2 separate regions of the Homo sapiens genome follow, and region 1 is linked to region 2. The links come from fine-mapping of genetic effects on gene expression. A gene starts in region 2. The other region holds a variant in brackets. All regions are shown on one strand. Distances are from middle to middle.

Region 1 (14,491 bases), 28 kb after region 2:
GGAACTCTCAGTAACAAGTCAAAGATGTTTCTTGATGCATTATTTACAATGCTTACACTGAAAAACTGTGATGGAATATGAATGAAATTATTTCTATAAAGTTCCTAGAATAGTGGCTAGCAGATACTAAACCCTCAGGTTTTGGCTGTTACTGTGAAAACTGTTTTGGAAGGAGGGGAAGTGCTTAGGGTACAATTTAAATAAAACTAATAGGACCTCAGACTACAAACAGTGGATCTCTATTTTATTTTATTATTATTATTTTTTGAGACGGAGTCTCTCTTTGTTGCCCAGGCAGGGCAGTGGCACAATCTCCGTTCACTGCAGCCTCTGCCTCCCGGGTTCAAGTGATTCTTGTGCCTCAGCCTCTGGAGTAGCTGGGATTACAGGTGCCCACCACCATGCCTGGCTAATTTTTATATTTTTAGTAGAGACAGGGTTTCACCTTGTTGGCCAGGCTGGTCTTGAACTCCTGACCTCAGGTGATGCACCCGCCTTGGCGTCCCAAACTGCTGGGATTACAGGCGTGAGCTATGGCGCCCGGCCCGGATCTCTATTTTATTTTATTTTTTTGAGACGGAGTCTTGCTTTGTCGTCCAGTCGGGAGTACAATGGCGCGATCTCGGCTCACTGCCACCTCCGCCCCTTCAGGTTTAAGCAGTTCTCTGCCTCAGCCTCCCGAGTAGCTGGGATTACAGGCGCCCGCCACCATGCCCGGCTAATTTTTTGTATTTTTAGTAGAGACGGGGTTTCACCATCTTGGCCAGGCTGGTCTTGAACTCCTGACCTCCTGACCTGCCTTAGGCCTCCCAAAGTGCTGAGATTACAGGCGTGAGCCACCGCGCCCGGCCAGATCTCTATTTTATAAAGAGACACCTAGCCGGGCGCGGTGGCTCACGCCTGTAATCCCAGCACTTTGGGAGGCCGAGGCGGGCAGATCACGAGATCAGATCGAGACCGTCCTGGCTAAAACGGTGAAACCCCGTCTCTACTAAAAATACAAAAATTAGCGAGGCGTGGTGGAGGGCGCCTGTAGTCCCAGCTACTAGGGAGGCTGAGGCAGGAGAATCGCTTGAACCCGGGAGGCGGAGCTTACAGTGGGCCGAGATCGCGCCACTGCACTCCAGCCTGGGCTACAGAGCGAGACTCTGTCTCAAAAAAAAAAAAAAAAAAAAAAAAGAGAGAGAGAGAGACACCTATATAACACCTATATATGGGGGATCCCAGGTCAAGATTGAGCTGTGACAGTAGTCTATCCCTTGGATTCGGTCGTGAGTTCTATTGTGGATAAGGTTGGAGAAATTTGCTTTGATTTTTTTTTTTTTTTTTTTTTTTTTTTAAGAAAAGGAGAATAACAGAATCAAGGAGCAAGGGCAACTTGACCATGGGGCGGCCGCATTGTAGACTGTTCTTCCCAGCAGAGCAGGATAAGGGGGGCTGGCCGGGGAGCTGCCGGTGTTGCCATCCTGTAAGGGATGCTAAAGTATCAATGAGCACTTAGGCATCTCTGAAACCATAGTGATATGGAGAAAGTTGTGTTTGCCGGAACTCCTGCAGAGCACAGAATGTGGTTAGTCACTTATCATAGTTTGAAACCCTTAGAGGGCACTCTTGAGCAACAATAAATGATCCCTAAACAGCTTTCCAGTGAAACCTGTTCCAGCTGATTCCACGTCCTTTTACTTGATGAGTAGTAAATATACACAACTCTCTCCCCAAAACTGAAGAGCGCAGATACAATGGAAAGATTGCCAGCTCTCCCCCAGAAGTCTGACTATTTTGTTCATCCCTCCGTGCTCTAAATACATGTTGAGGCCAGGTGCAGTGGCTCATGCCTGTAATCCCAGCACTTTGGGAGGCCAAGGTAGGAGGATCACTTGAGCCCAGAAGGTTGAGGCTGCAGTGAGCCGTTTGTGCCACTGGGTGACAGAGACCCTGTCTCAAAAACAAATAAAAAAACCCAATAAAATAAATTCATGTTGAGCAACTATTTCAAGAATATTGATTTTAAAGGGTGCCTAGATATTACTTTACCTGGGAGCCTACATGTCCCATCTGTTCCTGATCTCAGGCTGGCCCCATGGCCCACATCACAGCCCCATAAACAGTGAGTTGTTGGCAGAAGCTGAAGGAATTATGTGTTGTGTTTGGTTGTTATGTTGTCCAAGGAATCTGTTGAGCCCAAAGACCTAAGCAACACACACAGTATAACTGGGGCTCAGGTAACAAATAGTAATGCGAAGTGTGGGAGCTGGGGATCTCTCTTCTGTGTGGAGCCCAGCTCCACTGCCAGATAATACACCAAAGCTGAGAGGAAGGGTGGACCTGGCCCTTGGTTACCACTACTGGCAAACTATCCTAGGTGGCCAACTGCTACTAGTGGGCTGGTGCTATCATTTTGTTAGATGGATAAAGTGGATATTGGTGGTTCCTTAATAACAATGTATTTCTTCTTAAACTTTAAATTTTTAGATGGAAAAAATGGAAAAGACAGAGAAGAAAAATTAAGAAAAAAAACAGCTAGGCTTTTATTTTATTTTATTTTGAGACAGAGTCTTGCTCTGTTGCCCAGGCTGGAGTGCAGTGGAGTGATCTCAGCTCACTGAAGCCTTGGCCTCCCGGGTTCAAGCGATTCTCCTGCCTCAGCCTCCCGAGTAGCTGGGATTACAGGTGCCCGCCACCATGCCTGGCTAATTTTTGTATTTTCAGTAGAGATGGGTTTCACCATGTTGGCCAGGCTGGTCTTGAACTCCTGACCTTGTGATCCTCCCGCCTCGGCCTCCCAAAGTGCTAGGATTACAGGCATGAGCCACCATGCCCGGCTTTTTTTTTTTTTTTTTTTTAATTTAATAGACATTAATCTTTACTTTGGCTGTTTGAAGCAAGAGTTTGAGAAACTGCTCCTCTCTGGACTTGGGGCTCTAATCTCATACATGGGTTTTGTTTTGTTTTGTTTTTTCTTTTCTTTTTTTCTTTTTTTTGAGACAGAGTCTCATTCTGTCACCCAGGATGGAGTGCAGTGGTGTGATCTCCTCTCACTGAAACCTCCGCCTCCAGGGTTCAAGTGATTCCCGTACCTCAGCATCCTGAGTAGCTAGGACTACCTGCCACCATGCCTGGCTAATTTTGTATCTTTTGTAGAGACAGGATCTCACTATGTTGCCCAGACTGGTCTCAAACTCCTGGGTTCAAGTGATCTGCCCACCTTGGCCTCCCAATGTGCTGGAATTACAAGCGTGAGCCACCACTGATCTTTTTAATGTGTCAAAGTTTTACCTTTTTCAGAATGTCATATACATAGTTGGAATCATATGATATGTAGTTTTGTTTTTGTTTTTAGAGATGGGGTATCACTATGTTGCTCAGACTGGTCTCAAACTCTTAGGCTCAAGTGACATGTCAGAAGAACCAGGAGGCAGCTCGAAGGGTCTCCCACTGGCAAAATCTGGGACAGTTAAACATAAAAATTAACATAAAATTTAAAATAATGGCAACGGATTATACAATCCATTGAATAAAATAGGAACACAGGAATCCAAACATATGAATGAATGAATGAATGAATGAATGAATAAATAAATAAATGATAAGAAAAAATGCTTATAGTAGGATGCCAACAAATAAGTGTAGAAGAAATGATGAAATGAAAACATCAGCAATTGACAAAACAAAGGAATCATTCAGAATCATCAATGGACATTGATGGGTAAAAAATTCTTGACTAGGATATCTACATAATCTCAAAATATGTCTCCATATATATATATTTTTTTCTTTTTGAGATGGAGTCTTGCTGTGTCCCCAGGCTGGAGTGCAATGGCACGATCTTGGCTCAATGCAACCTCCACCTCCTGAGTTCAGGCGATTCTCATGCCTCAGCCTCCCAAGTAGCTGGGACTACAGGCACGTGTCACCACACCCAGCTAATTTTTGTGTTTGTAGTAGAGATGGGGTTTCACCATGTTGGCCAGGTTGGTCTCGAACTCCTGGCCTCAAGTGATCTGCCTGCCTCTGCCTCCGAAAGTGCTTGGATTACAGGCATAAGAGCCACTGCACCCAGCCAATATGTAGCCTTTTTAGTTGACTTCTTTCATTTGGTGAATGCCCTTAAGGTCCCTCTATGTCTTTTCATAGCCTGATAGCTAATTTCTTTTTAGTGCTGCATAATACTCCATTGTCACATTTGTCGATCTGTTCACCTACTGAAGGACGTCTTGGTTGTTTCCAAGTGTTGGCAATTGTGAATAAAGCTGCTCTGTAGCAGGTTTGTGTGTGGACATAAGTTTTCAACTCATTTAGGTAAATACCAAGGAGTGTGCTGCTGGTTCGTATAAGTTTAGTTTTGCAAGAAAAACTGTCAAACTATAAAGTGGCTGTACCCTTTTGCCTTCCCACCTACCATGAGCGAGAGTTCCAGTTGCTCCACATCCTTGTCAGCATTTGTGGTCAGTGTCTCGATGTTGACCATTCTAACAGGTGTGTAGTAATATCTCATTTTAATTTACATTTCTTCCAAAACTTCAATTTATTTGAAATATATTCAGACTTACAGAAAAGTCATAAGTATTTTAAAAGAACTCTAGTTTACCCTTCACCTAGATTCTTTTAACATTTTTATCACATTGCTTCTGCTCTATCATTCTTTCTCCCTCTCTCTCATCTCTGAACCATTTGAGTATAAGTTACAGACACGATGTGTCTTTTTCCTCAAATACTTCAGTGTATATTTTCAAGGACATGGATATTTTCTTACATAACCACAGTGCAATGGTCAAAACAGAAAAATTAGCAGCTACAGTATGATGATCTAATCTACAGATGTTATTCATTTAACGGTTATCTCAATAATATCCTTTATAGCCAAAAAAAAGAAAGAATAAATTGTGGCCTAAGTCCAGCGCACATTGCATTTACTTATCATGTGTTTCTATCCTTTAACCTGGAACAGTTCTTTAGTCTGTCTTTGTCTTTCATGAGCTTAACTTTTTTTTTTTTTTTGAGACGGAGTCTCACTCTGTCACCCAGGCTGGAGTGCAATGGCATGATCTTGGCTCACTGCAACCTCCGCTTCCCAAGTGATTTTCATGCCTCAGCTCCCGAGTAGTTGGGACTACAGGTGCCCGCCACCAAGCCCAGCTAATTTTTGTATTTTTAGAGGAGATGGGCTTTCACCATATTGGCCAGGCTGGTCTCGAACTCCTGACCTTGTGATCCACCCGTCTTGGCCTCTCAAAGTGCTGGGATTACAGGCGTGAGCCACTGCGCCCAGCTGAATTTAACATTTTTGAAGAATACAGGCCAGGTAATTTTTTTTTTTTTTTTTTTTGAGACAGAGTCTCGCTCTGTCGCCCAGGCTGGAGTGCAGTGGTGCAATCTTGGCTCATTGCCAGCTCTGCCTCCCAGGTTCATGTCATTCTGCCTCAGCTTCCCGAGTAGCTGGGACTACAGGCGCCCGCCACCAAGCCCGGCTAATTTTTTGTATTTTTAGTAGAAACAGGGTTTCACCGTGTTAGCCAGGATAATCTTGATCTCCTGACCTCCTGATCCGCCTGCCTCGGCCTTCCGAAGTACTGGGATTACAGGTGTAAGCCACCGTGCCCTGCCAAATATAGGCCAGGTATTCTATAGAATGTTCCTGAGTTTGGGTTTGTCTGTTATTTCCTCATGATTAGATTACACTTTTAAAAATGTATTTAGTTTGTCATGTAACCCCAAATACTCAGATAGATTTCACTTTTAGCAGGAAAACAACAGATGTGATGTGTCCTCTCAGTGCTTCATATCAAGAGATACATGAGACCAGTTTGTCCTCACTGGTAATGTTAACTTGGTTAAGATGCTGTCCACCAAGTTTTTCTACTGCAAAGTTACTATTTTTATTTTTGTAATTAATAAGAATTTTATGGGCCAGGCGCGGTGGCTCAGCATGTAATCCCAGCACTTTGGGAGGCTGAGGTGGGCGGATCACTTGAGGCCAGGAGTTCCAGAACAATCTGGCCAAGATGGTGAAACCATGTCCCTACTAAAAACACAAAAATTAGCTGGACGTGGTGGCTCACGCCTGTAGTCCCAACTACTTGGGAGGCTGAGGCACAAGAATTGCTTGAACTCCGGAGGTGGAGGTGGCAGTGAGCTGAGATCCTGCCACTGCACTCCAGCCTGGGGACAGAGCAAGACTCCATCTCAAAACAAAACAAAAAAGCAATTTTATGGAGACATATTTTGAGATTATGTAGTTATCCTGGTCAAGAATTTTTTACCCATCAATGTCCACTGAGGATTCTGAATGATTCCTTTGTTTTGTCAATTGCTAATGTTTTCATTTTATCATTTCTTCTACACTTACTTGTTGACATCCTACTATAAGCACTTTTTCTTATCATTTATTTATTCATTCTTTCATATGTTTGGATTCCTGTGTTCCTCCTTTATTCAATGGATTTTATAATCCATTGCCATCATTTTAAATTTTTTTTGTTAATTTTTATGTTTAACTGTCCCAGATTTTGCCAGTGGGAGACCCTTCAAGCTGCCTCCTAGTTCTTCTGACATGTCCCCATCATTCTTTGGGCCCTTTCTTACTTTCTGGTACAATATAATATTCCAGGCTTATTGTGAATTTTTCCTGCCCAAGCCCTTGAATCAACCATTTCTTCAAGGAATGCTGGTTCTTTTTAGTGGAAAATGGTGTTTAGAAAACAAAATACAAAAACAAAATTGGGGTATTACTTCTAGACCCTCACAGCAGACAGCTAGAAAATATGTGTATATGTACATTTATATAACCCCCCACATAGGTATTATATGTACTATATCTATATTTATACTTAGCTAAACCATTAATACCTATTTTCCATTCCAATAACATAGGATTTATTATGTCCCCCCTTCCACATCTATATCTGCTTTCTCTGACAGTAGGAAACTTGGCTCCCATTATCCTCAGCATATTTATTTACTGGATTAGTCAGGGTTCTCTAGAGGGACAGAGCTAATAGGATAGATGTATATATGAAGGGGAGTTTATTAAGGAGTATTGATGCACACGATCACAAGGTGAGGTCCCACAATAGGCCGTCTGCAAGCTGAGGGGTAAGGAAGCCAGTCTGAGTCCCAAAACCTCAGAAGTAGGGGAGCCGACAGCGCAGCCTTCAGTCTGTGGCCAAAGGCCTGAGAACCCCTGGCAAACCAATGGTGTAGTCCAAGAGTCCAAAAGCTGAAAAACTTGGAGTCTGTTGTTCAAGGGCAGGACGCATCTAGCACGGGAGAAAGACAAAGGCCAGAAGACTCAGCAAGTCTGCTCTTCCATCTTCTGCCTGGTTTATTCTAGCTGCGCTGGCAGCTGATTAGGCAGTGCCCACCCAGATTGAGGGTGGGTCTGCCTCTCCCAGTCCACCGACTCAAATGTTACTCTCCTTTCGCAGCACCCTCACGGACACACCCAGGAACAATACTTTGCATCCTTCAATCCAATCAAGTTGACACTCAATATGAACTATCACATTCACTGAGTTCTAGAACTCAGCAAAACAAATAAACACATGTTAGAACTACTAAGCTCTACCACTGGGAAAAACAAGCCAGGGATCTAGAGTTCAATATTTGTTTGCACTCTGAGTCCACATACTGTATGCAAAAGTTTGAGTTAGTTCTTTTTTCTCTTCAGTGTGGTTATGTTTTTCATTTGGTACCATTTGATATATGGATATGTTCACTTGTTTATATTTGTACTCCATGGGGGAGGGGAGTGTTCACCATTAGGGGTGTGTGTGTGTGTGTGTGTCTGTTTATAAAACACTGAGATGGTTCAAAAGTCAAAACTCTGCAAAAAGGTATACTCACGAAAGCATCATGACTTTTTTTAGCAAATAATTTTTCATTTCTTTCTTTCTTTCTTTCTTTCTTTTTTTTTTTTTTGAGACAGGGTTTCACTCTGTCACCCAGGCTGGAATACAATGGTGCAATCATAGCTCACTGCGACCTCAAACCCCTGGGCTCAAGCGATCCTCCTGCCTCAGCCTTCTCAGTAGCTGGGACTACAGGCTCATGCCACCATGCCCACCTAATTATTACTACTTTTTTTAAAGATAGGAGGGTCCTCACTATCTTGCCCAGTCTGGTCTCTAACTCCTGGCCTCAAGTGATTCTCCCACCTTGTCCTCTCAAAGTGGCAAATAATTCTTTTTTATTGAGAGTTCTTCCTCCTATTTTTTTTATAACTGTGGGCCTGGATCCTTTGGTTCATTTACCCTGTATTCATTCTGTGCCTTCCTGTTCTCCAGTCTTCAAGCACATACATAGACATACACACAAATTCAGCAGATAGTAAAAAAAACCACAAGATGATCTTTCAGATGACATACATTTTTCCCACTTTTAAACATAACATGATTCTATGTGGAAACAATTTTTTAAGTTAATTTTTTGCACCGTAATTATTTTTGTTTGGTGTATGATAATGACATATTTAAGTGATCATCTAAAAATAGCAATTTTTGTGAAAATGCCACAGTGGGCTATGAGGCCCTAATCTTATTCTATAAAAGCAGAGCATTTCCTTTACTAAGAGAGTAAGCAAACTGGTTTTCTGTTTTTACTTACCTGCAGGACAAAACAGTGCATGAATCACTTCCTCTGTAAGAAAGTGATGGTAGCCTAGGCGCTCATTATCCAAACCATTTGCCAGGTCCACTCTGCCAGCCCCATTTCCTCAGGATGTCTGTCCTTCAGCACTTTCGGCTCCTTCTGGGACAGTCATCAGCTGCCTCTAATCTCCTCACAGTCCAGGTGCTGTGATAATGGTGGTGGTAGTGGGCTGAGACTGTATGTCTCTCTCTCTCTATATATATATTTTTTCTTGTAAAATTTTTTTATTTTTTATTTTTTAAATTATTATTATTATTATTGAGATGGAGTCTCGCTCTGTCACCCAGGCTGGAGTGCAGTGGCGTGATCGCGGCTCACTGCAAGCTGCACCTTCCAGGTTCACGCCATTCTCCTGCCTCAGCCTCCTGAGTAGCTGGGACTACAGGCACCCGCCACCACACCCAGCTAATTTTTTTGTATTTTTAGTAGAGACAGGGTTTCACCGTGTTAGCCAGGATGGTCTTGATCTCCTGACCTCGTGATCCGCCTGCCTCGGCCTCCCAAAGTGCTGGGATTACAGGCGTGAGCCACCACGCCCAGCCTAATTTTATTTTTTTTAAGCTGCAGGTCTTGCTATGTTGCCCAAGCTGGTCTCGAACTCTGGGTTCAAGTGATCTTCCTGTCTCAGCCTCCCAGGTGAATTACAGGCATGATGCCTAGCTCTGAGACTGATTTTTTAAAAACAAGAATCCACTGTGCCAAGGTTGACTAAGATTTTCACCATTATATTTTGAAGTCCTGTTTTTTCTCTTTTTCCTTTTTTTTTTTCTTTTCTTTTTGACACAGGGTCTTGCTCTGTCACTCAGGCTGGAGTCGGGGAGGATTGCTTGAGCCTGGGAAGCAGAGGTTGCAGTGAGCTGTGATCATGCCACTGATTCTAGCCTCAGCGACAAAGCAAGGCTCTGTCTCAAAAATAAATAAGTAAAAATAAAATTGGGGCCAGGAGCGGTGGCTCACACCTGTAATCCCAGCACTTTAGGAGGCCGAGGCAGGTGGATCACGAGGTCAAGAGATCGAGACCATTCTGGCCAACATGGTGAAACCCCGTTTCTACTAAAAATACCAAAATTAGCTGGGCTTGGTGGCATGTGCCTGTGGTCCTAGCTACTCAGGAGGCTGAGTCAGGAGAATCGCTTGAACCTGGGAGACAGAGGTTGCAGTGAGCCAAGATCACACTACTGTACTCCACCCTGACGACAGAGCGAGACTCCGTCTCAAAAAATAAATAAAATAAAGTTCGGAGTTGACAGCATGAAAGTATGAAAGTATGTGTGAATACTAGTGGAATGAGTGCAGATAAAGGAGATAAGTCACAACATACTTAGGCCTGAGACACCCCTGAAAGGTGTGAAAAACAGCAAAGAAGACCAAGAAAGGGTTCAAGAGAAGAACATCAGGGGTTTGGGGCTGGGCGCTATGGCTCACACCTGTAATCCCAGCACTTTGGGAGGCTGAGATGGGAGGATCGCTTGAGTCCAGGAGTTCAAGACCAGTCTGGTCTGCATGGAGAGACCTCCCCATCCCTAAAGTAAATACATAAATAGAAAAAAAATCCAAGGGTTTGGGGTTCTACAAGCCAAGGGAAGAAAGTGAATTAAGGAGAGCATGACCAAGTATGTCAAATGCTACTAAGATGAGGACTGAGAACTTGACTATTGAATTTAGCAGCATACAAGTTATTGGTAACCTTGATATAAGAGCAGTTTCAGTGAAATGGTGGGTGCAAAATGCTGACTGGAATCCGTTCAGTAAAGAACGGGAAGAGAGGAATTGGAGACAGTAAGTATAGAAAACTCTTTCAAGGAG[T/G]GTTGCTGCTAATGGGAGGAAAAGTGGAGTGAAGAGGCTTACGTTGGGAAGAATTATAGCAGGTTTTCGCTAATAAGATTCAAGAAGAAATCTGACATTACATGAGAAAGGGAGAATGGCAGGCGAATGGGAAATTGGATACTGTGCACAGGTGAGGGACCCAATTAGGACAGGACATGGATAGGCAGGGAGAGAGAGTATATGGTCTCAAGAGGTAATAGGTGGCTTAGATATGGTTGTGGGAGGCTGTCCCCTGCTGATTGCTTGTATTTTACTAAAGTGGGAAGGAAGGTCATCTATTGGGATGGAGGATTGGGGATACAGTGGAGGTCTCAGGAGGAAGTAGTGATGACCTAGTAATAAATTTTAGGTGAAACCAATCTGCTTTGTTCAGCCACATGGGTACAAGTATGAAAACAGAACTGAGTAAACTGGGGATTTGGTTTTGCCAAGCGAGACAAAGCTAGACGTGGCGAAGGAAGTGAGTGAATGTGAGGGAGTGATCAGTGACTGAACATCGGATTTAAAATGGGTAAGGGTAGAAGAGAGGACATCAAGAGCTGAGGGACAAATTATTAGCTTTTTAAAATCTGTTTTCTTTCTTTTTTTTGGAGAGGGGGAGGTAGGGACAGAGTTTCACCCTTGTTGCCCAGGCTGGAGTGCGATGGCACTATCTCAGCTCACTGCAACCTCCACCTCCCGGGTTCAAACAATTCTCCTGCCTCAGCCTCCCAAATAGTTGGGATTACAGGCGTGCGCAACCATGCCCAGCTAATTTTGTATTTTTAGTAGAGACAGGGTTTCACCATGTTGGTCGGGCTGTTTTTGAACTCCTGACCTCAAGTGATCCACCTACCTCCGACTCCCAAAGTGCTGGGATTACAGGCATGAGCCACCACGCCTGGCCAAATCTGTTTTCTTATCTGAATCTTAGAATGTTATTGTGAGGCTTTTATGTGATAATGTAAATACAGTACTTAGCACAGAACTAAGCACTGAATAAACATTCTACCAGTGCTTCTGAAATGAAGCTTTCCATCAGAATCACCTGGGGAATTTTTGAACCGACTATTACTCGGAGGCCAATGCAGACAAATAAATAGAATTTTTGAGGGGGATGGGGATGGGGACCAGGGAATGGCTCTAACTACTCTGCAGGTGATTCACATGTGCAGTCAGGGCTGCAAATTTTTGAATTAACAAAAATGATCTCTATTAACAATTATGAACTGAATATCTCATATGGGCCAGACAATATATGATTGTCTCATGTAAGTCTCACAAGTCTTCAAGGCTCAAACATAAGTGGTAGAGCCAGGGATTTCTAGTCAATGGTCTCGGACACTAAGTCCTTCCCACTATAAGCTTGGTACTCCAGTGATGGTTTGAGGAGCAGCAGCACCCCTCGGGAGCTTGTTAGAACTGCATCGCAGGCCACTATGTCAGTCTGCAGTTTAACAAGATCCCCAGGTGATTCATGTGTACATTAGAGTTTGAGAAGCCTTGAATTATGCCACTCTGATGTAATGTGGACCCAAATCACATTTGGGTCCCTTTGTGAGCCAAGGGCAATGTTTATTTTACAGAATCCTTCAGCTGATGCCAATTGCTTTAAAGCATCAATTTTAAAATTGTTGATTAGTTCTTCGTGTCCTAAAAAAGCTAATAGGCTTCTGCGAAGGGTTATCTCTGGAAATGTTTTAGTTATGAAATCACAGTGGAAGTCATGAGGATTCCTTTTCAGGGCTTTAAAAAGGCTAAAGCCAATTGAGTAGCTGTATGAAACTCCGAAGTGTTCCATGACATATTATTTGTATAGCGTTTCATAGTCACCGAGTGCGATGTTTCTTGTAGTGACCACAGGAATTCATTATTGGGATTCAGGTAAATTGTCTAAGGTCATATGACCAGTAAGACAAGGACTAAGACTTTTTTTTTTTTTTTGAGACAGAATCTCACTCTGTCACCCAGGCTGGAGTGCAGTGGCGCCATCTCAGTTCACTGCAACCTCCGCCTCCCGGGTTCACGCCATTCTCCTGTCTCAGCCACTCGGGTAGCTCGGACTACAGGCACCCGCTACCACACCCGGCTAATTTTTTGTATTTTTAGTAGGGACAGGGTTTCACTGTGTTAGCCAGGATGGTCTCAATCTCCTGACCTCATGATCTGCCTGCCTCGGCCTCCTAAAGTGCTGGGATTACAGGTGTGAGCCACCATACCCGGCCTCAACAGTTCTTTTGAGTTCTCTTTTCGTGCTTATTTCACTATACAGTTGACCCTTGAACAACACAGGATTGAAGCACAGGTCCTTATATGTGGACTTTTTTTCAATAAATAGCCCTCTGCATTGATGGATTCCACATTTACAACCAAATGTGGATGAAAACACGGTATTCCATCAGGATGCAAAACCCACCAATACGGAGGTTTGACTCAGTATCTGTGGGTTCCAGAGAGCTCAGGGACTTGAGTATGAGCAGATTTGGGTACCTGTGAGTGGTCCTGGAACCAGTCTCCCATAGACACTGTGGGCCGACTGGATAAGCCTCTAGAATGTAGGCAAACACCACAAACTATGGAGCAAAACAATCGTTTCCTTGGGTATGGAGCAGCACTGTTTTGTCGGTTGTTGGAGATCTAGACTTGGAGTTATAACAAAGAGAAGCCACTGTTTCTATACTTGGAGAACCTTGAGTCTGTCATAAGCTTTATTCTTGAAAGACTTACACTTTTTTTTTTTTTTTTTTGGCAGAGGGTAGGTTGGAGGTAGGAGTATCAGTACCTTACTGGAGTAACTTTCCTGAGCAGAACTGAAATCACTGTGAACTGAACATGAGCTGAAATAACATGTAAAGCTTTGGAATTAATTTAAGGATGTGTTTATTTACAAGATACAAATGTTTAATATTTAATAGGAATTAAAGTGCTTAATTTTACAATGTTTCCAATTATCTGCTTTTATGACCAAATATACATATATTACACAATATATACATTATCTGCAAGTATTTTACATTCACATAGCTAGAAAAGAAAAATTACTTGTGTATACTTTCACACTTGAGTCAACTGTAAAATTCCAAAAACATACATTCTCAAACTTATCAGTCAAGAATTCAAAAGAAAAATCCAGATACGCTTATTTTATTTTTTGAGTCGAAGTCTTGCTCTGTCACCCAGGCCGGAGTGCAGTGGTGCAATCTCGGCTCACTGCAACCTCTGTCTCCCGGGTTCAAGCAATTCTCCTGCCTCAACCTCCCGAGTAGCTGGGATTACAGGCATGTGCCACCACACCTGGCTAATTTTTGTAGAGACAGGGTTTTGCCATGTTGGCCAGGCTGGTCTCGAACTCCTCGGCCTCCCAAAGTGCTGGGATTACAGGCATGGGCTACCGTGCCTGGCCCAGATACACTTATTTTGTTTTATTTTTATTTAGTAGAGACAGGGTTTCACCATGTTGGCCAGGCTGGTCTCAAACTCCTGACCTGAAGTGATCTGCCCACCTCGGCCTCCCAAGGGCTGGGATTACAGGCATGAGCCACTATGCCCGGCCTATGCTTATTTTAAAATGTCAATTGTCACTCACAAAATGAAATGCTAGTTTGGTTAAAAAAAAAAAAGTCTTATATACAGACAGACATGACTGTTTTGCTAATGAAGAGAACCCCCCACAAGTGATACATTCCAATATCCATATACTGTGTAATATATAATGTGATTCTCTTATAATGGTCCCCACAGACTAGTTTCTTCCCAAACCTATATGTCACTATGTATTTGGTATTTATTTATTAAAGTATGATATGAGATTTCTTGATTTACGTTTTCCACTAAAACTACCACAATGAATTTTGGGAAAAGGGGTTGACCATCATATAACTCCCGGTGACCCCAACAAGTTAAAACTATCTTGTAGAAGCCATGTGCTATTTCATGTCAAAATACAGGAAAAGATACTGCATTCTGCCAAATGCTCAGTCCAGAAAGTAGAAGACCATGATTGACTTCAGATTTTTTTTTTTTTTGCCTCAGTAAACAG
Region 2 (15,399 bases):
ACTTCTCAAATTTTAAATATACTCCAAAGCTACAGTAATCAAAGCAGAATAGAACTGAGAATCCAGAAATAAACCCATATAATAAATCTTTGGCTGGCCAGGCATGGTGGCTCATGCCTGTATTCCCAGCACTTTGGGAGGCCGAGGTGGATGGATCACCTGAGGTCAGGAGTTCAAGACCAGCCTGGCCAACATGGCAAAACCCCGTATCTACTAAAAAAAAATACCAAAAAAAATAGCCCGGCGTGATGGCAGGTGACTGTAGTCTCAGCTACTTGGGAGGATGAGGCAGAAGAATCGCTTGAACTCAGGAGGTGGAGGCTGTAGTGACCCAAGACTGCATCATTGCACTCCAGCCTGGGTGACAGAGTGAGACCCTGTCTCAACAACAACAACAAAATCTTTGCTCAACTGATTTTCAACAATGCCAAGACTATTCAATGGGGAAAGAACAGTCTCTCCAACAAATGGTACTAGGTCAACTGGAGAAGCACGTGCAAAAAAAATGAAATGAACCCCTACCTCATACCATACCAAGATGTACTCAAAATGGATCAAAAGCCTAAATATACAAGCCAAAACTATAAAATAATTAGGGGAAAAAACATTAAAAAATAAAAAAAAATCTTCACGGCTTTGGATTTGTCAATGCCTTAGATATGACACCATAAAGCAATAAAAGGAAAAAAAAAGATAAATTAGCCTTAACCAAAAGTAAAACCTTTTGTGTATTGAAGGACACTAACAAGGAAGCAAAAAGACAAGGCCGGGTGTGGTGGCTCATGCCTATAATGCCAGCACTTTGGGAGGCCAAGGCAGGCGGATCACCTGAGGTCAGGAGTTCAAGACCAGCCTGGCCACCTGGGCAACAGAGCGAGACTCCATCTCAAAAAAAAAAAAAAAAAAAGAAAAAAAAGAACTCTTACAACCTCAACAATAAGACAACCCCAACAAACACATGAAAAGATGTTCAACACCATTAGTCATTAGGGAAATGCAAAACAAAACTTCACACCCATTAGGATGACTATAATCAAAAACAGATAATAACAAATGTTGACAAAGATACAGAAAAACTGCACCCTTCAAACATTGCTGGTGGGAATTTTAAAATGGTGTAGCTGCTGTGGAAAAGTGGTTGCTCAAAAAGTTAAACAAAATTACCATAGAACCCAGTAATTTTACTCCTAGGTATATACCAAAATAACTGATAACAGGTACTCAAATACTTGTACACCAATATTCACAGCAGCACTATTCACAACAGCTAAAAGGCAGAAACAACCCAATTGCTCATCAATAGGTGATTGAATAAACCAATGTGGTTTATACATATAACAGAATATTACTCAGCCATTAAATGGAAAAGAAAGAAGAGGGAGTGACAGCTCAATAGTAGTTTTCTTTCGTGATGAAATTGTTTTGGACCTAGACAGAGATGTCATTATGAATGCACTAAATGACACTGAATTATACATTTTATAAAAGGGCTAATTTTGGCTGGGCACAGTGGCTCACACCTGTAATCCCAGCACTTTGGGAGGTCGAGGTGGACGGATCACCTGAGGTCATGAGTTTGAGACTAGCCTGACCAACATGGAGAAACCCTGTCTCTACTAAAAATACAAAATTAGCCAGGCATGGCACATGCTTGTAATCCCAGCTACTTGAGAGGCTGAGGCAGGAGAATCACTTGAACCCGGGAGGTGGAGGTTGCTGTGAGCCGAGATCGCGCCATTGCACTCCAGCCTGGGCAACAAGAGCAAAACTCCATCTCAAAAAAAAAAAAAAAAAAAAAAGGCTAATTTTATGTTCTGCAAATTTCACCTCAATTTTGTTAAGTTAAAAAAAAGCAGCAGCTCATAATCTATACAAAAAAAGAGAAAAACATAAATTTATCTAAGAACACAAGAAAACAATGCATAAGCAGGAATTAAATTATAGTCAATAAATGCTAAAATGTAGACAGCAGTGCTCATGGAGAAAAAAAAGAGAGAGGGACATCAAACTATGAAAAAAGTTGTCCATAAGAGAAGGAAATGGCATAGGTGTCAAAAAGTGCTGTTTTTCAAATAAAGAATTCCAGAATGATTTAGCGCTTAAAAAAAAAAGATAACAACAAGTGTTGATAAGGATGTGCAGAAACCTGAACCCTGGAGGGGATGTGAAATGGTGCAGCCACGGCTGGGCGCAGCAGCTCACGCCTGTAATCCCAGCACTTTGGGAGGCCGAGGTGGGTGGATCATTTGAGGTCAGGAGTTCGAGACCAGCCTGACCAATATAAGGAAACCCTCGCCTCTACTAAAAATACAAAAAGTAGCCGGGCAGTAGTGGCGGGCACCTGTAATCCCAGCTACTCAGGATGCTGAAGCAGGAGAACGCCTTGAGCCTGGGAGGCAGAGGTTGCGGTAAGCCAAGATAGCGCCACAGCACTCCAGTCTGGGCGAGAAAGTGAGACCCTGTCTCAAAAAAAAAAAAAAAAAAAGGTGCAGCCACTATGGAAAACACTTTGGTAGTTTTTCAGAAAGTTAAACGTAAGAATTATCATATGAATCAGCAAGTCTACGCTTAGATATATACCCAAGAGAATCAAAAATACACATTCACTGACCGGGCGCGGTGGCTCACGCCTGTAATCCCAGCACTTTGGGAGGCCGAGGCGGGTGGATCACGAGGTGAGGAGATCGAGACCATCCTGGCTAACACGGTGAAACCCTGTCTCTACTAAAAACAAAAAATTAGCTGGGCGTGGTAGCGGGCACCTGCAGTCCCAGCTACTCGGGAGGCTGAGGCAGGAGAACGGCGTAAACCCGGGAGGCGGAGCTTGCGGTGAGCCAAGATCACGCCACTGCATTCCAGCCTGTGTGACAGAGCGAGACTCCATCTCAAAAAAAAAAAAAAAATACACATTCACACAAAAACTTGTAAACGAATGTTCGCAGAGCATTATTTATTCATAATAGCCAAAAAATAGAAACAACCCAAAAATTCATCAATTGATGAATAAACTGTGCTGTATCTATACAATGTAATATTTATTATTCTGCCATGCTACATAATGGATGAACCTAAAAAACATTATGTTGAGTGGCTCATGCCTATAATCCCAGCACTTTGGGAAGCTGAGGCAGGCAGATCACTTGAGGTCAGGAGTTCGAGACCAGCCTGGCCAACATGGCAAAACCTCGTCTCTACTAAAAATACAAAAAAATTAGCTGGGTGCGGTAGCACGCGCCTGTAATCCGGGCTGAGGCAGAAGAATCACCTGAACCCGGAAGGTGAAGGGTTGCAGTGAGCTGAGATTGTGCCATTGCACTCCAGCCTGAGCAACAGAGCAAAACTCTGTCTCAAAAAAGAAAAAAAAAAAGAATTATGTTGAGCAACAGATGCCTGGCACAAAAGATCAAATCACATATTATAGGATTCCACTAATGTGAAATATCCCAAATAGGCAAATCCATACAGACAAAAAGTAGATTAGTGGTTGCCAGTGATACCTGCTTTTTCCAGTATCATGCATTTTAAAATCCAATGATTCACTAATATATTTTTCAAATTAGGATCTAGGAACCATCTGTATCAGAGTCACCGATGGACCCTCACCCACGTGGGGCTTATAAAATCAAAACCTGTCAGAAGCTGGGGGAGGACAAAACGGGGGTGACTGCTTATGGGCAGGAGTTTTCTTTTTCAGGTAATGAAAATATTTTGGAATTACACTATGGTGGTACAACTTTGTGAACATACTAAACGCTGCTGAGTTGTGTATACTTTATAAGGGTGAATTTTGTGTTACATGAATATTTCAGTATTTTTAATGTTAAATTTTTAAAAGTTGATTTGCAAATTAGAAATTAAAATCCAAATTACTGGCCGGGCATGGTGGCTCATACCTGTTATCCCAGCAGGAGGCTGAGGCAGGCAGATCATTTGAGGTCAGGAGTTTGAGACCAGTCTGGCCAACGTTGTAAAATGCTGTCTCTACTAAAAATACAAAAATTAGGCCGAGCACAGTGGCTCATGTCTGTAATTCCAGCACTTTGGGAGGCCAAGGCAAGTGGATCATGAGGTCAGGAGTTCGAGACCAGCCTGACCAACACAGTGAAACCCCATCTCTACTAAAAATACAAAAATTAGCTGGGCGTGGTGGCATGCACCTGTAATCCCAGCTACTCAGGAGGCTGAGGCAGGAGAATCACTTGAACTCGGGAAGCGGAGGTTGCAGTGAGTTGAGATCGCACCACTGCACTCCAGCCTGGACAACAGAGCAAGACTCCATCTCTAAAAAAATAAATAATAAAATAAAATAAAATCCAAATTATTTTTAGGCTAGGTGCAGTGGCTCACACCTATACTCCTAGCACTTTGGGAGGCCAAGGCAAGAGGATCATTTGAGCCCAGGAGTTTGAGACCAGCCTTGGCAACATAGTAAGGCAGCGATTTTAAATTTAAAAAAAAAAATTAGCCAGATGCGTGCCTGTAGTCCCAGCTACTCAGGAGGCTGAGGCAAGAGGACTGCTTGAGCCCAGGAATTTGAGGTTACAGTGAGCTATGGATTATGCCACTGCACTCCAGCCTGGGTGAAAGAGCCAGACCCTAAAAAAATAAAAATAAAAAATCCAAATTGTTTTTCCTTTTACATTTGTCTGAATTACTGAAGATAGAATGCTGAAATCACTGAAATAAAAGGAAAAGTGTAAAGTACATTACTAGGAACACTAAGCCAGAGTCTCAGGTTAATGTCATCTGTATTCGGATACCTATATTGGGTGGTAGTTTAGATTACATACCTGGAGGGCTCCCCTTTCCAATTCTTAATTTAAGAAATAGGATTAAATTTCCCAAGTTGAGTCACAAAAGTTGTTTTAAGTCTTATCTCCTCTACTTGCAAAGTTACACCATGGTCTAAAAGTATCATCAGCCTTCTCTCTCTCCCCACTGTGTCTGTTCATTTCACACAGATGGTCTCTACTAGAAAAAATAAAAGCAATTTATTTAGCTAACACATAAAACATGTGAATGACTGATAGCTGTAAACAGGATTCCCTCACCTCCACTCCTCCAAGTCCCTAGCCCCCAAATGAGTGTTACTTGGGCATTTCATAAAACCAAAGTTTAAAACATTTAGGGGTCAGCAATGGTTGCCTGGGAAGTGATATATTAAAGCAAGAATGCCACCAAAGTCAGCATGGTACTGGATGGTAGTATGCCATAGATTCAACCTCCCCTAATTTTCCTGCTTTTTCCAGTATCATGCATTTTAAAATCCAATGATTCACTAATATGTTTTTCAAATTAGGATCTAGGAACCATCTGTATCAGAATCACCTATGGTCCCTCACCCAACCCAGGCTTATAAAATCAAAATCTCTGGAGACAGGATCCAGGAAACTTAGTTTCAAAGTGATTCTTAGGCCAGGCGGGGTGGTTCACACCTGTAATCCCAGCACTTTGGGAGGCCGAGACGGGTGGATCACCTGAGGTCGGGAGTTGGATACCAGCCTGACCAACATGGAGAAACTCTGTCTCTACTAAAAATACAAAATTAGCCGGGCGTGGTGGTGCATGCCTGTAATCCCAGCTATGTGGGAGGCTGAGGCAGGAGAATCACTTGAAGCCGGGAGGCAGAGGTTGCAGTGAACCAAGATCATGGCACTGCACTCTAGCCTGGGCAACAAGAGCGAAACTCGGTCTCAAAAAAAAAAAACCAAAGTGATTCTTAATACACACTCAAGTCTGAGAATCACTGTTCCAAAAAGTTCAACAAGATAGAAACTGAAGCCATTTAAGGTATGGATAATATGTAGGATAGAGACTACACTTGAAGTTGTTTTTTAATTTTTTTTTGGAAGAATCAGGGTCTCACTCTGTCGCCCAGGCTGGAGTGCCATCGCAGAATCATAGCTCACTGCAGCCTCAAACTCCTGGACTCAGGCAATCTTCCCAAGTAGCTGGGACTACCGGCACACACTACACACCATAGCACCTGGCTAATTTATACCTGTATTCTGAAGACACAATTACTGCCGATAGGTATACTAGGCAGAACTAAGTACAGAACACTTATATGTCTGGAACTCACTCACTACAATTACTTCATTAAATATAAATGTGAGGTATACATATATGTTACACAACACCAAAGAGTAAAAATGGCAGACATCACAAAGTAATGGTATACTAGTATTCAAACCAAGAAGAGATTCTTGTTTCCCCAACACACTACAAAAAAGGCGGGGGCGGGGGGGCGGTGTGGGGAGAAAATAGGGGCGGGGGGGGCGGTGTGGGGAGAAAATAGTTTCTATTCTCTCTCTTTCTGCTGGGGTGCAGTGACATGCACTCCTGCACGCACCACAGCCTCAACCTCCCAGGCTCAGGTGATCCTCCCACCTCAGCCTGCAGAGTAGCTGGGACTACAGGTTCGCACCACCATGCCCAGCTAATTTTCGTATTTTTCGTAAAGATGGAGTTTCCCCACGTTGCCCAGGCTGGTCTTGAACTCCTGGAATCAAGTGATCTGCCTACCTCGGATAATTTCTATTCTGTATTTCTTCTGTACTTGAGTAAAAGACTGATTATCAGCTAATAAGAACTTAGATGGAAATAACCCTCATTAAATCAAGTAGAAAAACTGACCTCTTGAGAAATTTCAAACACCAACATGCAAATATAGCATATAACTGTCAGTACTAGGATGGTTTTTGCACATGTTAATGGCTTTCAGAAGGATGGGATCTTTACTTTTCTCTCCTGCCACTCTGTATTTTGCCAACAGGTTTACTGACCAAAATAAACTCTATTTTGTGTAAAAAGAAAAAAACAACTTATTGATTTTAAACTATTTATGCTGACACACTATATCCCTAATTCTTTTACTTCCTCATGCTTAAAAAGCACTGAGACTCTCTTTTAAAAGTATGTGGAAAGTTTCTAGTGTGCAGCTAGAAGACACTTCTGAATCACTTACTATCAAAGACTTAATTTATATTATCTCTAACTTTTTACAAAAACAGGTTAGTTTTGATGATAAAAGTCCCAGTGTTTTAAAACATTGTGGTTAGAGTGAGCAATATTTACTCAAAATATTTACAGAGCACTTACTATATGTCCCAGACTGAACAAAATTATGTTCAATAAAAAATAATCCTCGTAATTTGTTTGATGCTTCTGAGTCTCCAAACATTACAAATATTGTTACAAATACTAGAATACGTAGGCAAGATTGAGCAGAATCTTTCCCAATCCTATCGCAGACCAAGGAAATGTGTTTCTAAAACAATTTCTATTGCTTCAACTATTTAAAAGCCAAAAAAACAAACAAACAAACAAACGAGTACAGGGTGTCTATAGTTTCCAGTGTTTGGATAGCCACTAATACTTTGAACAGTAAGTTCCTTCTGATAGCACTTATACCCTATACTATGTACCTCCTGGAAAATGATGGGGAAACCGCTCCTTCTCAATAGAAAAGATACTATTAAGAAATGAAAGCACTTAATATCAATATACTAATTTCTAAAATCCGTTTCTCTGAACTCTAATCGAAGTAGCAGAGAAAAGGAAAATTATACTTCTCCTCTGTCACTCTAGAAATAACAGTTATTTTGCCAACATTTCTGCATTCAAAAAAAAATGAGTTAGCTATGAGAAGACCAGAGAAACTGATGCCCAATTTAGGTCACGATCACAAAACTGTGGAAGACAAAAAGCACAGCCTACGCAGAAAAATCGGATATTCCTTCCCAACACCCGCAGAACTCTAGATACACGTTTTGTTTTTCTTTTTTTAAAATGCTGCTTCGGCGTTCTCGAAACCTGGTGGAATTATACTGCAGGAAAACACTGGCGCTCACGCACCGTAGCGTCTCTCAGCCTCAACAGAGCGATTCCAAAACTAACTCCGCAGTCCCTGGGCAAGGCAAGGAGGGAAATAAAACACCCGTCTCACGAAAGCCAACAGTGATGGGAACAGCCAGCCCACCGAGCCCAGCGAGACCCGAGTGCCCCGCGCGTCCCCCAGGTGCCCTTGGAGGCAGCGGCACGCGGACGAGGCCGCGCCCGGTCCCAGCGGACTCCAGTTCCGCCCGCCGGCCCCATCCTTCCCTCTCCTGTCCCCGGGACCCGCCGGGCTAGCCAGGCCCGCCGCGCCGGCTCCGCCCCTGGCCGGGCCCCGGATTCTCCGCCTTGATGCAACGCTGCCCCGGGAGGGCGGGTGCGGCAGAGCCCGGAGAGCCCTGGGGCCCCCAGCAAGGCCCTCCTCCCACAGGCCCCAAAGGCTGGCGCGGGAGTGGGCGCTGGCGCGGGAGTGGGCACTGCCGCAGCACCGACCAGGCCTGCGGCCGGGGTCTGGCCCGAGCGAACGCCGCCTGCTGCTCTCACCTGCGTTCCCACTACGACGATTTGAGGCAGCTGGATGATGTCGGCGCCCACCGTGTTGAAGACGTCCTGGAGCTTGTTTATGACAGGAATTAGCGCCTCCATGACTCTGAAAACACGGGGCCCCAGTGCCCGCCGGCCACGGCAATGAATGGGGCCGGGGCCCACAGTTCGCCTCCTTCCTCCTCTCCTCCGCCCTCTCCTCGGAAGCCGGCACCCATTGGACCGGGCCCGCCGGCTACCTGCCCCCTCCCGGCAGGCCATGCGCTGCGAGGGAGGTGGAGAGGAGCAAGGCCTGCTGGGAGTTGTAGTTCTGGAGCGGAGGAACGCTACTCCCCACAGCTTCCAGGAGGCTGCGCGGCACCGGTGGGCCCTAGCCTGGGACTGGGATGCTGCGCAGGCTCTAGTCAAAGGCTAGGAGCAGGCCGGGAGCGCAGGAGGAAGGCCGTAAATTTATGCCTGTCCTCAAGGCACGATGGATGTGACAGTGCTGGGTGTGAATATGTGTTAAAGGCGCAATGGTGTGTCTCTTAATTATCCAGTGTCACTTCCTTTTATTTATTTTTTATTTATTTATTTTTTTTTTTTTTTTGAGACGGAGTCTCACTCTGTCGCCCAGGCTGGAGTGCAGTGGCGCGATCTCGGCCCACTGCAAATTCCGCCTCCCGGGTTCACGCCATTCTCCTGCCTCAGCCTTCGGAGTAGCTGGGACTACAGGCACCCACCACTACGCCCGGCTAATTTTTTGTATTTTTAGTAGAGACGGGGTTTCACTGTGTTTTCCAGGATGGTCTCGATCTCCGGACCTAGTGATCCACCCGCCTCGGCCTCCCAAAGTGTTGGGATTACAGGCGTGAGCAGTGTGACTTCCTTATGAAGACACTTTCTCTAGAAGGACGGGTTGGAAAGGCTTAAAGAAAAGCTTATGGCCGCAAACAACCAAACTGGGTGCAAAAAAATCTGCACGCTGATACGAGAATGTGTGGGGTGTTATTTTGCAAAAATACAAAAACCAGCCCAGGTTAGAATACGCGGGTTCTCCAGGGGTTTTGTAAACAAACAAACAAACAAACAAAATGTGTGTTCAGGACCGAGCGCGGTGTAATCCCAGCACTTTAGGAAGCAGAAGCAGGAGGATCGCTTGAGCTGGGAGTTCGAGACCAGCCTGGTCAACATAGTGAGACCTCATCTCTACCAAATAAATAAATAAATAAATAAAAAAGCAGGGGTCGGAGCAGCGGGGGGCGGTGTTCATGAAAAAAATCTTAGAGTATTGGAGTTTTACAGGGGAAGAGCTGGGCATTTATTATCAATATTATGTATAAACCTTTATTTGCTGTAGCCTGATTCCTGGCAAAGTAGACATCTGATAACTGCCTTACTCACTCTTTGCTCATACCGTTCTTTTTTTTTTTTGAGACAGAGTCTGACTCTGTCGCCCAGGCTGGAATGCAGTGGCGCAATCTCGGCTCACTGCAGCCTCCTCCTCCCAGGCTGAAGTGATTCTCCTGCCTCAGCCCCCCAAGTAGCTGTTATTACAGGCACCCGCCACCACCCTGGGAAAATTTTTGTATTTTTAGTAGAGACGGGTGGGGGGCGGGGTTTCACCATGTTAGCCAGGCTGGTCTCGAACTCCTGACCTCAAGTGATCCGCCCATCTTGGCCTCCCACAGTCCTGGGATTACAGGCCTGAGCCACCATGCCCGGCCCATACTGTTATATTTCTAAATGTTGTTTTTCTTTTTAGACAGATAGTATCCCTCCTCTACTCCAAACCTCCAAAGGTAAAAGTAAACCTCAAAGTAAAAAGGTGACATTTGAGTAAAGAATTAAAGCAGGTGAGGAGAGGCCAGGCACCGTGGCTCACGCCTGTAATTCCAGCACTTTGGGAGGCCAAGGCAGGCGGATCACTTGAGGTCAGGAGTTCAAGACCAGCCTGACCAACATGGAGAAACCCCGTCTCTACTAAAAATACAAAAATTAACCGGGCGTGGTGGTGCATTCCTGTAATCCCAGCTACTCAGGAGGCTGAGGCAGGAGACGGGCAGATCACTTGAGGTCAGGAGTTCAAGGCCAGCCTGGGCAACACGGCAAAACCCAGTCTCTACAAAAAATACAAAAAAATTAGCTTGCCTGTCGTGGTGGTGCATACCTGTGGCCCCAACTACTTGGGAGGCTGCAGTAGGAGGATCACCTAAGCTTGGGAGGTGGGGACTGCAGTGAACTGTGATCGTGCCACCGCACTCCAGCCTAAGTGACAGAGTGAGGCCCTGTGTCAAAAAAAAAAAAAGAGAAAAGAGAAAAGAAAACATAATAAGAGCACTTTTTCCAGTCTGAGCAAGAGGATAGAGATTCGAGAAAGACTTCCTAGAAGTTACTAAATTTAATCTCCATGAGGACAAGAACCACCAGCAGTAGTGGAAGTTGTGCACTACGCAACTCCAGTGGGTGCCATTCACCTGCTTAGCTGTACACAATGGCTGCGGGGAACATGCTTGATTTGTTCAGCAGGACAAATGGCAGGTGCTTAATAAATATCTGTGAACAAATGGATGAAGTAAGCCAAGACCTAAAGATCCATTAGTGGTGTTTTGGCATCTTGACAGGTTTTGTGAACATCTCCTCTTTGATTATTTTCAAAAAAAAAATTTTTCAGAGATAAAATAAGACAAAAATTTCAGAACTCCAAAAAACAGTTTTATTCCAAGTCTCTTGACTTTCTACCAAAGATAATATTACATAATAGTCAGATATTACCCACTTTGCTTCTCACCCCTCTGTTGATGGAGCTTTTGTTTTCTTCTAAAGAAAACAGAAGGCCGGGCACGGTGGCTCATGCCTGTAATCCCAGTACTTCAGGAGGCCAAGGTGGGCATATCACCTGATGTCGGGAGTTCAAGACCAGCCTGACCAACATGGAGAAACCCCATCTCTACTAAAAATACAAAAATTAGCTGGGCGTGATGGTGCACGCCTGTAATCCCAGCTACTCGGGAGGCTGAGGCAGGAGAATTGCTTGAACCCGGGAGGCAGAGGTTGCGGTGAGCCGAGATTGCACCATTGCATTCCAGCCTTGGCAACAGGAGCAAAACTCCGTCTCAAAAAAAAAAAAAAAAAAAAAGAGCCAGGCCCGGTGGCTCACGCCTGTAATCCCAGCACTTTGGAAGGCCGAGGTGGGCGGGTCACCTGAGGTCAGGAGTTCAAGACCAGCCTGACAAACATGGTGAAACCCCATCTCTACTAAGAATACAAAAAAAAAATTAGCCTGGTGTGGCGCGTGCCTGTAATCCCAGCTACTCGGGAGGCTGAGGCAGGAGAATCGCTTGAACCCGGGAGGCAGAGGTTGCAGTGAGCCGAGATCGCGCCACTGCACTCCAGCCTGGGCGGCAAGAGCAAAACTCCAACTAAAAAAAAAAAAAAAGAAGAAAAAAAACCAATTTCGGCTTTCATGTTTTAAGTTCAGAACACTCTTGTTTGTGGGAAATCAATTTAACTAATAAGTGGCTAAATGGATTTCCCACAAAAAAGAGTCTTTGTGCATCTAAGAATAATGTGTTCTTCAGTGGCTTCCTGTGGGAATCACATTAAACCATTATCGGATATCAAAAGGCCTTTAAAAAAACCTCTTCTCGGCCAGGTGCGGTGCCTCACACCTGTAATCCCAGCACTTTGGGAGGCCGAAGTGGGTGGATCACGAGGTCAGGAGATGGAGACCATCCTGGCTAACACGGTGAAACCCCGTCTCTACTAAAAATACAAAAAATTAGCCAGGCGTGCTGGCACGCGCCTGTAGTCCTAGCTACTGGGGAGGCTGAGGCAGGAGAATTGTTTGAACCTGGGAGGCAGAGGTTGCAGCAAGCCAAGATCGCGCCACTGCACTACAGCCTGGGCAACAGAGTGAGACTCTATCTCAAAAAAAAAAAACAACAACAACAAAAAACACCTCTTCTCCTGCAACCATCCCTCTCTCACCATAGCTTTATGATTTAGGCAGGATAGCTAATTGTAAGGACAGAAATTTAATTCTGAGCTAACTTGCCTCAAAAATGACTGAATGTCTGGGCGCAGTGGCTCTAGCCTGTAATCCAAGCACTTTGGGAGGCCGAGATGGGTGGATCAGTTGGGGTCAGGAGTTCAAGACCAGCCTGGCCAACATGGTGAAACCTCGTCTCTACTAAAAACACAAAAATTAGCTGGGGGTGGTGGTGAGAGCCTGTAATCCCAGCCACTCGGGAGGCTGAGGCAGGAGAATTGCTTGAACCCGGGAGGCGGAAGTTTCAGTGAGCCAAAATCACGTCACCGCATTCCAGCCTGGGTGACACAGTGACACTCCACCTCAAAAAAAAAAATGACTGGAACTAGGAGCTCAGGCAGAATCAGAGCTCTACATCTTATCACTACATCGTCTATTTCATTCTCTCACGCAGTTTACTCCTGTGGAATGAGGTGAGTGTGCTGTGGGGGAGGGTGTAGGGGATCTCATTCAGCAAGCTGTCTCACAGCAGATGAGGCAGAGAGAACTGGGGAGGAACTGAAACCTAGGAACCTGGTTTCTGCCTTGCTTCTCTAGTATATTAGTTCCCTATTGCTGCCTTAACAAATTACCACAATTTTAGTGGCTTAAAACAACAAAAATGTGGCCAGGCGCAATGGCTCACTTCTGTAATCCCAGCACTTTGGGAGGCCGAGGCGGGCGGATCACGAGTTCAGGAGATTGAGACCATCCTGGCTAACATGGTGAAGCCCTGTCTCTAGTAAAAATACAAAAAATTAACCGGGCGTGGTGGCGGGTACCTGTAGTCCCAGCTACCCGGGAGGCCGAGGCAGGAGAATGGCGTGAACCTGGGAGGCAGAGCTTGCAGTGAGCCAAGATCACGCCACTGCACTCCAGCCTGGGCAACACAGTGAGACTCCATGTCAAAAAAAAAAAAAAAGTATTGTTTTACAGTTCTATAGTTCAGTAGTCTCACACAGGTCTCACTGGACTAAAATCAAGGTGTCACCAGGGCTGCAAACCCTCCTAAAGCCTCTAGCAGGGAATTCACCTCCTTGCCTTTGTTAGGGGCCCCCTGCATTCCTTGCTGGTTACCTCCTTCCAACCTCTTCAAAGCCAGCAATGTCGCATCTCTTTAACTCTTCTGCTGTCATCAGGCCTCTGACCCCCAGAAAAGCTTCTCTGTGTTTAAGGGCCCATCATTAGATTGGCCAACCTGGACAACCCAGGATAATATCCCTGTCTCAAGGCCTGTACCCTTAATCACATCTACAGAGTCTCTCCTGAGACATAAAGTTCACAGGCTCCAGGGATTAGGACATGGACTTATTGGAGGGGCCTACTGCACCTGGTTAAGGTGATTGGTCTAGGGATGGACCTGCAGGACCATTTAGAATCCTTCTCTGAGAATTTCCTAACCTGAATTTGAACAAAAATATTTTCTCTCTCTGGTTATAGAACTGTAAGCATGTGAGTCAATGTCTCCAAAGATCATGTTTCCTATCTCATGGAATAAATTGGTTTGCAAGAATAAACTTCTTTATTCACCTTGAAGAACTTCCCCAAATTCAGTAACTTACCCATATATATACATATATATATATATTTTTTTTTTTTTTTGAGACAGAGTCTTGCTCTATCACCCAGGCTGGAGTGCAGTGGTGCAATCTCAGCTCACTGCAAGCTCCGCCTCCTGGGTTCACGCCATTCTCCTACCTCAGCCTCCCGAATAACTGGGACTACAGGCGCCCACCGCCACACCCGGCTAATTTTTTGTATTTTTAGTAGCGATGGGGTTTCACCATGTTAGCCAGGATGGTCTTGATCTCCTGACCTCGTGATCTGCCCGCCTCAGCCTCCCAAAGTGCTGGGATTACAGGCATGAGCCACTGCGCCTGGCCAACTTTCCCATATTTTTAAATGTACATGTGCTGTACAGCACATAACATCAGAATTCTAATCCCCATAGTTAACCATATGAATTTCTCCATTTTTCCTTGTTGCCCTTTTCACACAATATTATTGAACTATTATTTAAGTGCTTATTGTATGTGAGGCACTATACTAAGCATTTTATCAGAGCCTCGTGAAGTAGGTTTAGAGATGTAGAAACGGAGGCTCCAGGGATTGAAGTGAAGTGGTAAATTTACACAGCTAGTATGTGGCAGAGATGGGATGAAAAGGGGCTTTTTGGCAAACCCCCTTTTTTTTCTTTTTTTTGAAACAGTCTTACTCTGTCGCCACAGTGGTGCGATCTCAACTCACTGCAACCTCTGCCTCCCAGGTTCAAGCAATTCTCCTGTCTCAGCCTCCCCAGTAGCTGGAACTACAAGCGCACACCGCCTCGCCAGGCTAATTTTTGTATTTTTAGTAGAGACTGGGTTTCACCATATTGGTCAGGCTGGTCTTAAACTCCTGACCTCAGGTGATCCACCCGCCTCGGACTCCCAAAGTGCTGGGATTACAGGTGTGAGCCACCATGCCCGGCAGCAAACTCTCAACCGCTACACATTCTGCCTCGTGTATTTATTCCTTTCTTCATTAATTCAACACATATTGATGAAGTACTTGTTAGGCATACGGATCTTAGCCAGGCAGTATATTTTGCTGGAGAGTAGGGAGGAACCGTGGATATGGCACTAACATGCCCTCCCCCTTCACCAATAGTGAGCTCACGAAGGGCAGAAGTGATTATCTTATTTAGCTGGGTTCCCCCACTACCTCGTATGAAGCGTGTTACATAATATTAGTCTACTGGATATGGGGTTTTCTTTTCTTTTTTATTTGGAAAATCTGGAATAACAAGGATTTAAGCAGCTCTGAATTGATATAATTGCAACCAGGACTGGCAATCAAATCTCACCAACACATATGAGTCTGGCTTGGCATAGGACTCCTCATTAGAATAGATGCCAAGTTACTTAGCTAGGGAGTAGCCTGGCTTTGTTCTAACTTAAAATCCCGAATTAGAGGAAGTTTATTTTGGATTAAATTAATAACTGGAAATTAATCGATCTTGGAAAAGGTCA

The links. PIP is the estimated chance that this variant, and not a neighbour inherited with it, causes the effect.
Region 1: its variant is the best candidate, but not a certain one, in a credible set for the expression of DNM1L in cerebellum (GTEx, PIP 0.79).

The regions. Positions count from the first base shown.
Region 1 is chr12:32,644,875-32,659,365 of GRCh38, reverse strand. It overlaps FGD4 (FYVE, RhoGEF and PH domain containing 4), which reads right to left. Exons shown (of 17, transcript NM_001370298.3): 17 at 13,316-14,491. It overlaps LOC124902914 (a long non-coding RNA gene), which reads right to left and starts at 8,868. Exons shown (of 2, transcript XR_007063270.1): 1 at 8,602-8,868; 2 at 7,007-7,256. The variant T/G (reference allele first, on the strand shown) is at 10,453.
Region 2 is chr12:32,672,446-32,687,844 of GRCh38, reverse strand. DNM1L (dynamin 1 like) reads right to left here and starts at 8,544. Exons shown (of 20, transcript NM_012062.5): 1 at 8,380-8,544. The coding sequence starts at 8,481. RefSeq lists a silencer at 7,987-8,396 and an enhancer at 12,452-13,651.